3 separate regions of the Homo sapiens genome follow, and all the other regions are linked to region 3. The links come from fine-mapping of genetic effects on gene expression. A gene starts in region 3. Each other region holds a variant in brackets. All regions are shown on one strand. Distances are from middle to middle.

The links. PIP is the estimated chance that this variant, and not a neighbour inherited with it, causes the effect.
Region 1: its variant is fine-mapped to the expression of SLC44A2 in whole blood (INTERVAL, PIP above 0.99).
Region 2: its variant is fine-mapped to the expression of SLC44A2 in whole blood (INTERVAL, PIP 0.97).

What each region holds. Positions count from the first base shown.
Region 1 is chr19:10,597,791-10,600,547 of GRCh38, reverse strand. It overlaps the pseudogene LSM2P1. Among named protein-coding and RNA genes, the nearest start is that of AP1M2, 12 kb to the right of the region's middle. The variant A/G (reference allele first, on the strand shown) is at 1,630.
Region 2 is chr19:10,591,329-10,594,085 of GRCh38, reverse strand. No RefSeq gene overlaps it. Among named protein-coding and RNA genes, the nearest start is that of AP1M2, 5.4 kb to the right of the region's middle. RefSeq lists enhancers at 1-442, 969-1,493. The variant C/T (reference allele first, on the strand shown) is at 1,482.
Region 3 is chr19:10,623,891-10,626,647 of GRCh38, reverse strand. It overlaps SLC44A2 (solute carrier family 44 member 2 (CTL2 blood group)), which reads right to left and starts at 1,095. Exons shown (of 22, transcript NM_020428.4): 1 at 978-1,095; 2 at 347-395. The coding sequence starts at 1,014. RefSeq lists an enhancer at 2,056-2,637.

The DNA of each region.
Region 1 (2,757 bases), 26 kb after region 3:
ATCCTTATTCGTAGTGGGCAAAAAAACTAGGAGCAGCCCAAATGCCCATTAACAGATCATTGGTGAAGCAAACCATGGTGGGTTTCACCCATACCATGGGATTCTCCTTAGTGATGAGGAATGAATGTTTTCTTCTTTCTTTTTTTAGGGACAGGATCTTGCTGTATTGCCCAGGCTGGATTGCGATGGTGCAGTCATAGCTGACTGAAGCCCTGACCTCCTCAGCTCAAGTGATCCTCCTGCCTCAGCCTCCCGTTGCTGGGACTACAGGCACACACTATCATGCCTGGCTAATTTCTTTCTTTCTTTCTTTTTTTGACAAAGTTTCACTCTTGTTGCTCAGGCTGGAGTGCAATGGTGCAATGGTGTGATCTCAGCTCACCGCAACCTCCGTCTCCCAAGTTCAAGTGATTCTCCTGCCTTAGTCTCTGAGTAGCCGGGATTACAGGCATGCACCACCACGCCTGGCTAATTTTGTATTTTTAGTAGAGACGGGGTTTCTCTATGTTGGTCGGGCTGGTCTGGAACTCCCGACCTCAGGTGATCCGCCCCCCTCAGCCTCCAAAAGTGCTGGGATTATAGGCATGAGCCACCGCACCTGGACATACTCGGCTAATTTTTTAAATTTTTGTGGAGATGAGGGTCTCCCTATGGGTGCCCAGGCTGGTCTCAAGTGATCCTTCTGCCTCAGCCTCCTAGAGTGCTGAGATTACAGGTGTGAGCCACAGCGCCTGGTCCAGGAATAAACTATTGATACAGGCAAAAATATGGATGAATCTCTCCCCAAAAAGCATAATGTTGTGTGAAAGAAACCACACACTTTTTTCTGAAGTTCAAGAACAGGCATAGCTAATCAACCTATAGTAACAGAACATATATCAGTGGTTGACTTTTGGGGTAGTAATAACTACTGGGATGATAGGAGCAGCTTCTGGGCACTGGAAACAGAATTGTAGTTACATAGCTTAGTTTAGTTTGTGAATACTTGACCTTCTCCCCCGTACTCTGCCTGCCTTTTTTTTCTGAGACAGAATCTTGCTCTGTTGCCCAAGCTGGAGTACAGTGGCAATTTTTGTATTTTAGTAGAGACGGGGTTTCGCCATGTTGCCCAGGCTGGTCTCGAACTCCTGATCTCAGGTGATCCACCAACCTCAGCCTCCCAAAGTGCAGGGATTACAGGTGTAAGCCGCTGTGCCCAACCGACTTCTGCCCTTTTAAAATATGTGTTGCTGGCCCGGCACGGTGGCTCACGCCTGTAATCCCAGCACTTTGGGAAGCTGAGTTGAGTGGATCACAAGGTCAGGAGTTCAAGACCAGCTTGACTAACTTGGTGAAACCTGGTCCCTACTAAAAATACAAAAAAAAAAAAAAATTAGACGGGCGTGGCGGCGGGCGCCTGTAATCCCAGCTCCTCAGGAGGCTGAGGCAGAGAATTGCTTGACCCCGGGAGGCAGAGGTCGCAGTGAGCCAAGATTGCACCACTGCACTCCGGCCTGGGTGAAAGAGTGAGACAGCATCTCAAATAAATAAATAAATAAAATAAAATATGTGTTGCTCTTCCTGGTCAGGTCGCCAGCATCATGCTCTTCTATTCCTTTTTTCAAGTCCCTTGTGGGCATGAATGTGGTC[A/G]TGGAACTCAAGAAAGACCTGAACATCTGTGGCACCCTCCATTCGGTGGATCAGTATCTCAACATCAAATGAGCTGACATCAGTATCACACACCTTGAGAAATATCCTCACATTTTATCAGTGAAGAACTTCTAGGCTGGGTGCAGTGGCTCACACCTGTAACCCCAGCACTTTGGGAGGCCAAGGCAGGTGGATCACCTGAGGTCAGGAGTTTGAGACCAGCCTGGCCAACATGGCAAAACCCCATCTCTACTAAAATACAAAACTTAGCCGGATGTGGTGGCGGGCGCCTGTATTCACAGCTACTCGGGAAGCTGAGGCAGGAGAGTTGCTGGAACCCGGGAGGTGGAGGCTGCAGTGAGCTGAAATCATGCCACTGCACTCCAGCCTGGGTGACAGAGCGAGACTCTGTCTCAAAAAAAGTTTTTTAAAAAGGACTGTTTCATTCCGGGCTCAGTGGTCCCATACGTGCAGTTGCCAGCAAAGGAGGTCGACACACAGTTGCCATAGCATGCAGCAAGGAAGAAAGCCAGCAGTAGTAAGTGACAGCCCCTCCTTCTCTTCCCTTCCCTCTTCCTTGGTGACCTGTAACTCCAAGTCCCAGCCCAGGACCCCTAACTCCCAATACTTGAAGGGGTTTTGTTTGTTTTTTTACTAATGATGGTTTTGTGGGTTTTTTTTAAAAAAGGGAAGAGTGGATAAGGGGAATAATAGGGAACAGGTATCCTTTGTTGAGAAAGGGAGAAGAGGTAGGCTGGGAAACTCCAAAGCCTTCCCAGTCCCCAGCACCTGCCGTTCTCACTACCTCCCTGGAGATGGTGGGAGGGAGGGCTTCCTAGGTCTTTCCAGGGTACCATGTGATTCACCTGGGGGTTGAAAGGAATCTGTCCCATATTGGGAATAACATTTATGATGCAAATATATATGTGTGTTTGTATACATAATAAATAAAAAAGTTACATTTCAAAATGAGAATTTTTAAAATAGTTTAAGAAAAAAGGTGGTGGTCCTGCAGATTATAATAAGAGTGACTGTTTACAGCCAGGAGTGGTGGCTCACATCTGTGATCCCAGCACTCTGGGAGGCAGGAGGGTCACTTGAGGACAGGAGTTCAAGATTAGCCTGGAC
Region 2 (2,757 bases), 33 kb after region 3:
AGTAAGCTTTTGGGCTCATGAATTTTTCATGCCAAACAAGCCTGGAGTTTCAGATTCCAGGGCACTGGGCCCAGGCTTTCGGGTTCTGCTTACTGCCTGAAAACATCTCAGGGCCCCAGGAGATGAGTTCTTCATTTTGTTGTTGTTGTTGTTTTTGAGACAGAGTCTCACTCTATTGCCCCAGGCTGGAGTGCAATGGCGCAATCTTGGCTCACTGCAACCTCTGCCTCCCAGTTTCAAGTGATTCTCCTGCCTCAGTCTCCTGAGTAGGTGGGATTACAGGCATGTGCTACCACCCCCGGCTAATTCTGTATTTTTAGTCCAGACAGGGTTTCACCATTTTGGCCAGGCTGGTCTCAAACTCCTGACCTCAGGTGATCCACCCACCTCAGCCTCCCGAAGTGCTAGGATTACAGGCGTGAGCCACCACGCCCGGCTGCCAGGAGACGAGTTATTTTGAGGTTCAGCAATGTCTAGGCTGGGGTGAGGGCCTAGCAGTGACTGCATCCCCCTAGGTGACCTTCTCAGCAGGCAGTTGCTGGGAGCATGAAGGACCACCCCCCTCCTTTGGGCAGAAGCAACATAAAGTCTTGGGCTTTAGGCTGGGCGAGATGGCTCACGCCTATAATCCCAGCACTGTGGGAGGCCGAGGCGGGTGGACCACTTAAGTCCACAAGTTGGAGACCAGCCTGGGCGACATTGTGAAACCTGTCTGTACCAAAAAGTATAAAAATTAGCTGGATGTGGTGGTCACGCACCTGTGGTCCCAGCTGTGCAGGAGGCTGGGGTGGGAGAATTGCTTGATTGCTTGAACCTGGGGAGGTGGAGGTTGCAGTGAGCTGAGATCACACCACTGCACTCCAGCCTGGGTGACAGAGACCCTGCCTCAAAAATAATAATAATAATAATAATAATAATCAGGGCCAGGTGCGATGGCTCACCCCTGTAATCCCAGCACTTTGGGAGGCTGAGGTGGGTGGATCACCTGAGGTCGGGAGTTTGAGACCAGCCTGACCAACATGGAGAAACCTTGTCTGTACTAAAAATACAAAATTAGCCAGGCATGGTGGTGCATGCCTGTAATCCCAGCTACTTGGGAGGCTGAGGCAGGAGAATCACTTGAACCTGGGAGGCGGAGGGTATGGTGAGCCAAGGTTGCACCATTGCCCTCCAGCCTGGGCAACAAGAGTGAAATTCCATCTCAAAAAACAAAAAAGTCCGGGTGCAGTGGCTCAAACCTGTAATCCCAGCACTTTGGGAGGCCAACGTGCAATGCGGGCGGATCACAAGGTCAGGAGTTTGAGACCGTCCTGGCCAAAATGGCGAACCCCCATCTCTACTAAAAATACAAAAATTAGCCAGGCATAGTGGCACAAACCTGTGGTCCCAGCTACTTGGGAAGCTGAGACAGAAGAATCACTCGAACCCGTGAGGCGGAGGTTGCAGTGAGTCAAGATCACACCACTCCACTCCAGCCTGGG[C/T]GACAGAGCGAGACTCTGTCTCAAAACAAAAAACAAAACAAAACAAAAAAACCTTGTGCTTTCCAGAGCTCAAATCCCAGCTCTGCTTCTTCTGACTGGATGACATTGTACAAATCACTTACTCTCTCAAGGCCTCAGTTTCCCTATCTGTCAAATGAAGATAATAGAGTTGGGGGAGGTGACTCGTGTCTGTAATCTCAGTGTTTTGGAAGGCTGAGGTGGGAGGACAGCTTGAGGCCAGAAGCTCAAGACCAGCTTGAGCAACGTAGCGAGACCCCATCTCTACAAAAAATTTAAAAATTGGGCAGGCACGGTGGCTCACGCCTGTAATCCCAGCACTTTGAGAGGCTGAGGTGTGCGGATCACGAGGTCAGGAGATCGAGACCATCTTGGCTAACACGGTGAAACCCCGTCTCTACTAAAAATACAAAAAAATTAGCCGGGCTTGATGGCGGATGCCTGTAGTCCCAGCTACTCCGGAGGCTGAGGCAGGAGAAGGGTGTGAACCTGTGAGGCGGAAGTTGCAGTGAGCCGAGATTGCGCCACTGCACTCCAGCCTGGGCGACAGAGCAAGACTCTGTCTCAAAAAAAAAAAAAAAAAAAATTTAAAAATTAGCTGGGAGTGGTGTTGCTCACCTGTAGTCCCAGCTACTGGAGAGGCCTAGGTGAGAGGATCTCTTGAGTTCAGAAGGTTGAGGCTGCAGTGAGCCGTGTTTGCACCACTGCACCGCAGCCTGGGCGACAAAGCAAGTCCTTGTCTCAAATAAATAAAAAAAAAAAATAGGCTTCTGTAATTCAAGGGGCTGTCTTGAGGATTCCTGCATGGGCGACATTTAGGGCCACCCTCACTTATGGTGAGCACCATTTAAGCCAGAGTTAGTGTTACTAATAGTAATATTTGCATCCAGCAATATAGCAAAGCAGGCGGAAGCAGGCTGGGACCAGATTCTTAAATCCCGGGACTCAGATTCGAATTCTGGGTCAACTGCCTCCTGGCTCTGGGGCCGTGGGCTTGGGCAGGTGCCTTCACTTCTCTGTGTCCCTGCTTCTACCTTTATAAGATGGCACGAAGGAGACTTGTGCCAGATGATAACTTTTTATTTTTCATTCTATTTATTTATTTTCTTGAGACGGAGTCTCACTCTGTCACCCAGGCTGGAGTGCAGTGGTGCCATCTCGGCTCACTATAACCTCCGCCTCCCCAGTTCAAGTGATTCTTCTGCCTCAGCCTCCCAAGTAGCTGGAATTACAGGCATGCGTCACCACGCCCGGCTAA
Region 3 (2,757 bases):
CGAGGTCGAGACCAGCATGGGCAACACAGCGAAACATCTCTGCTAAAAGTACAAAAAAAAAAAAAAATTAGCCAGGTGTGGTGGTGCAAGCCTGTAATCCCAGCTACTTGGGAGACTGAGGTGGGAGAATTGCTCGAACCCGGGAGGCGAAGGTTGCAGTGAGCCGAGATTGAGATCGCGCCACGGCACTCCAGCCTGGTGACAGAGCAAGACTCCATCTCAAAAAAAAAAAAAAGTTTCAAATATTTGTCACCAGTTTGTTGGAGAACAGATGGGAGGGGGTGTGAAGAGACAGGGATTGGGGTAGTATTAGCGGGGAGAACCCCCCAAAACCCAGAGCTCTTACCTATTGTAAATGGGTCCTTTGAAAGTGGGATCATACTTCTGTGGCGTTCCTGAAAGTCAAGAAGATTAAGATGGATGGGATTGGAGACCTGAACCAAGACAGGGCTGGGAGAGCCCCCTCCCAAAAGCCCCTAGGGGTGTCTTTGCCTTGGCAAGAATAAAATTCAGAGACCTGTGGAATTTTCTGCCTCACCCACCTCCAGGTGACCACACCCAAGCCCCCAGTTCTGGCAGGCCAGGACAGGGGAGGAAGGAGGGATCACTAACTGTGAACAAACTTATTAACTGGCGGCCACCCACTGGGAAGAGGGCTGAAATGGTGACCACCACGGAACCAGGTGGAGATGGGGAAGATCTGAGGTGGGATAGGGGGAAGGAGGCGCCGGCAGCAGTGCCAGGCAGAGGGGTACAGGGGCAGGTCCTTCGGGTAGGGGAGAGTAAGGAGGGTCGTCTGCGAGGCTGCGGGGGATAAGTGGGGTGAAGGGGCCTGGCTGATGGTGGGGAGGCTCCAGGCGCAGATTTGCAATTGCGCTCCCCCTCCAGCCCCCTTCCCTGCGCCCCATGTTCTCTCAAGGCCCCCTCCGAGGGACCGAGGGGTCGGCCCGGGGCTACGGGCGGGGGTCGCTGCCTACCGTGTTTCCCGTAGTAGTGGGGCCGCTCGTCCCCCATCCCTGCAGGCGACCAGCCCCGGCGGCCGCCCGCGCTCTCTCCCGCGCCCCCTCGACCCTCCCGAGTCTGGAGGGAGGCACTGACCGCGCGACTGGCGGCGGCTCCTCCCAGCACAGCGCCAGGCGGGGCGGCCCAAACCGGTCAGACCGGCCCGAGCTGGGCAGCTGCCCAGACTAAGGGACCCGGGAGGGCGCGGGCGGGGCTGCAGCTGCTCCCGCCACTCACCGGCCGGCCGCATTTAGCCTTCCCCGCCCCCACCCGGGAACCCTGCGGCTTCACCCTGGGAACACCCTGCCACCGGGCGATGCCGCCTAGAACCCCTGGCCACCCTGAAAGGGCGTTTCCGTGGCTTCGTTTTGCAGGTGTGGAAACTGAGGCACTGGGAGGGAAAACGGCCTACTGCCCAAACCCAGACAACCAACTGTGGAATGTTGGTGCTGAAAACTTCTCCAAGCTGTGCAGGAAATTAGTTTTCTTTCTGTCTGCTGCTTTTTTTTTTTGAGACAGGATCTCCCTCTGTTGCCCAGGCTGGAGTGCAGTGGTGCAATCACAGCTCATCGCAGTCTCGACCTCCCTGCCTCAAGCCATCCTCCTGACTAAGCCTCCTGAGTAGCTGGGACTACAGGTGCTCTACTGCACTCGGCTAATTTTTAATTTTTTTTGTAGAGATGGGATGTTGCTATGTTGCCCAGGCTCATCTTTAACTCCTGGACTCGTGGGCTCCTCCCACCGTGGCCCCCCAAAGTGCTGGGATTACCTGCGTGCACTACTGGGCCTGGTCTTAGAACAAGTATTTATTCAGCCCTTAGTGGGTGCAGGCCTTGGGCGGGGCACCGCATACAGTGAGGAACCAGAGAGACCCAATCTCCACCCTTGTGGAGCCCACATCCTCCTGGGTCGCCCTGAATTCAAATGCTCCTTCTGCACCCTCTGAACTAGAGGATACTTAACAAAGGGCTTATCTTCCTTAAGCCTCAGTTTCCTCAACTGCAAAATGAGGCTAAAGTATGAAACCAAAACTGACCTCAAAGAGCAGGCATAGGCCAGGTGCAGTGGCTCATGCCTGTAATCCCAGCACTCTGGGAGGCTGAGGCAGGTCGATCAGGATTTCTAAGCCAGCCTGGCCAACATGGTGAAACCCCTTCTCTACTAAAAATACAAACATTAGCCAGTGTGGTGGCACATGCCTGTAATCCCAGCTACTTGGGAAGCTGAGGCAGGAGAATCGCTTAAACCCAGGAGGTGGAGGTTGCAGTGAGCCAAGATTGCCTCACTGCACTCCAACCTGGGGGACAGAGTGAGACTCTGTCTCCAAAAAGAAAAAGAAAAAAGAAAATAGGCTGGGTGTGGTGGCTAACACCTATAATCCCAGCACTTTGGGAGGCCGAGGTGGGCGGATCATGAGGTCAAGAGATCGAGACCATCCTGGCCAACTTGGTGAAACCCCGTCTGTACTAAAAATACAAAAATTAGCTGGATGTTGTGGTGTGCACCTGTAGTCCCAGCTACTTGGGAGGCTGAGGCAGGAGAATCACTTCAACCCGAGAGGCGGAGGTTGCAATGAGCCGAGATCGTGCCACTGCACTCCAGCCTGGGTGACAGAGCGAGTGTCTCAAAAAATCAATCAATCAATAAATCAAAAATTAGCCGGGTGTGGTGGTTCATGCCTGTAATCCCAGCACTGTGGGAGGCCGAGGCGGGCAGATCACTGAGGTCAGGAGTTCAAGACCAGCCTGGCCAACA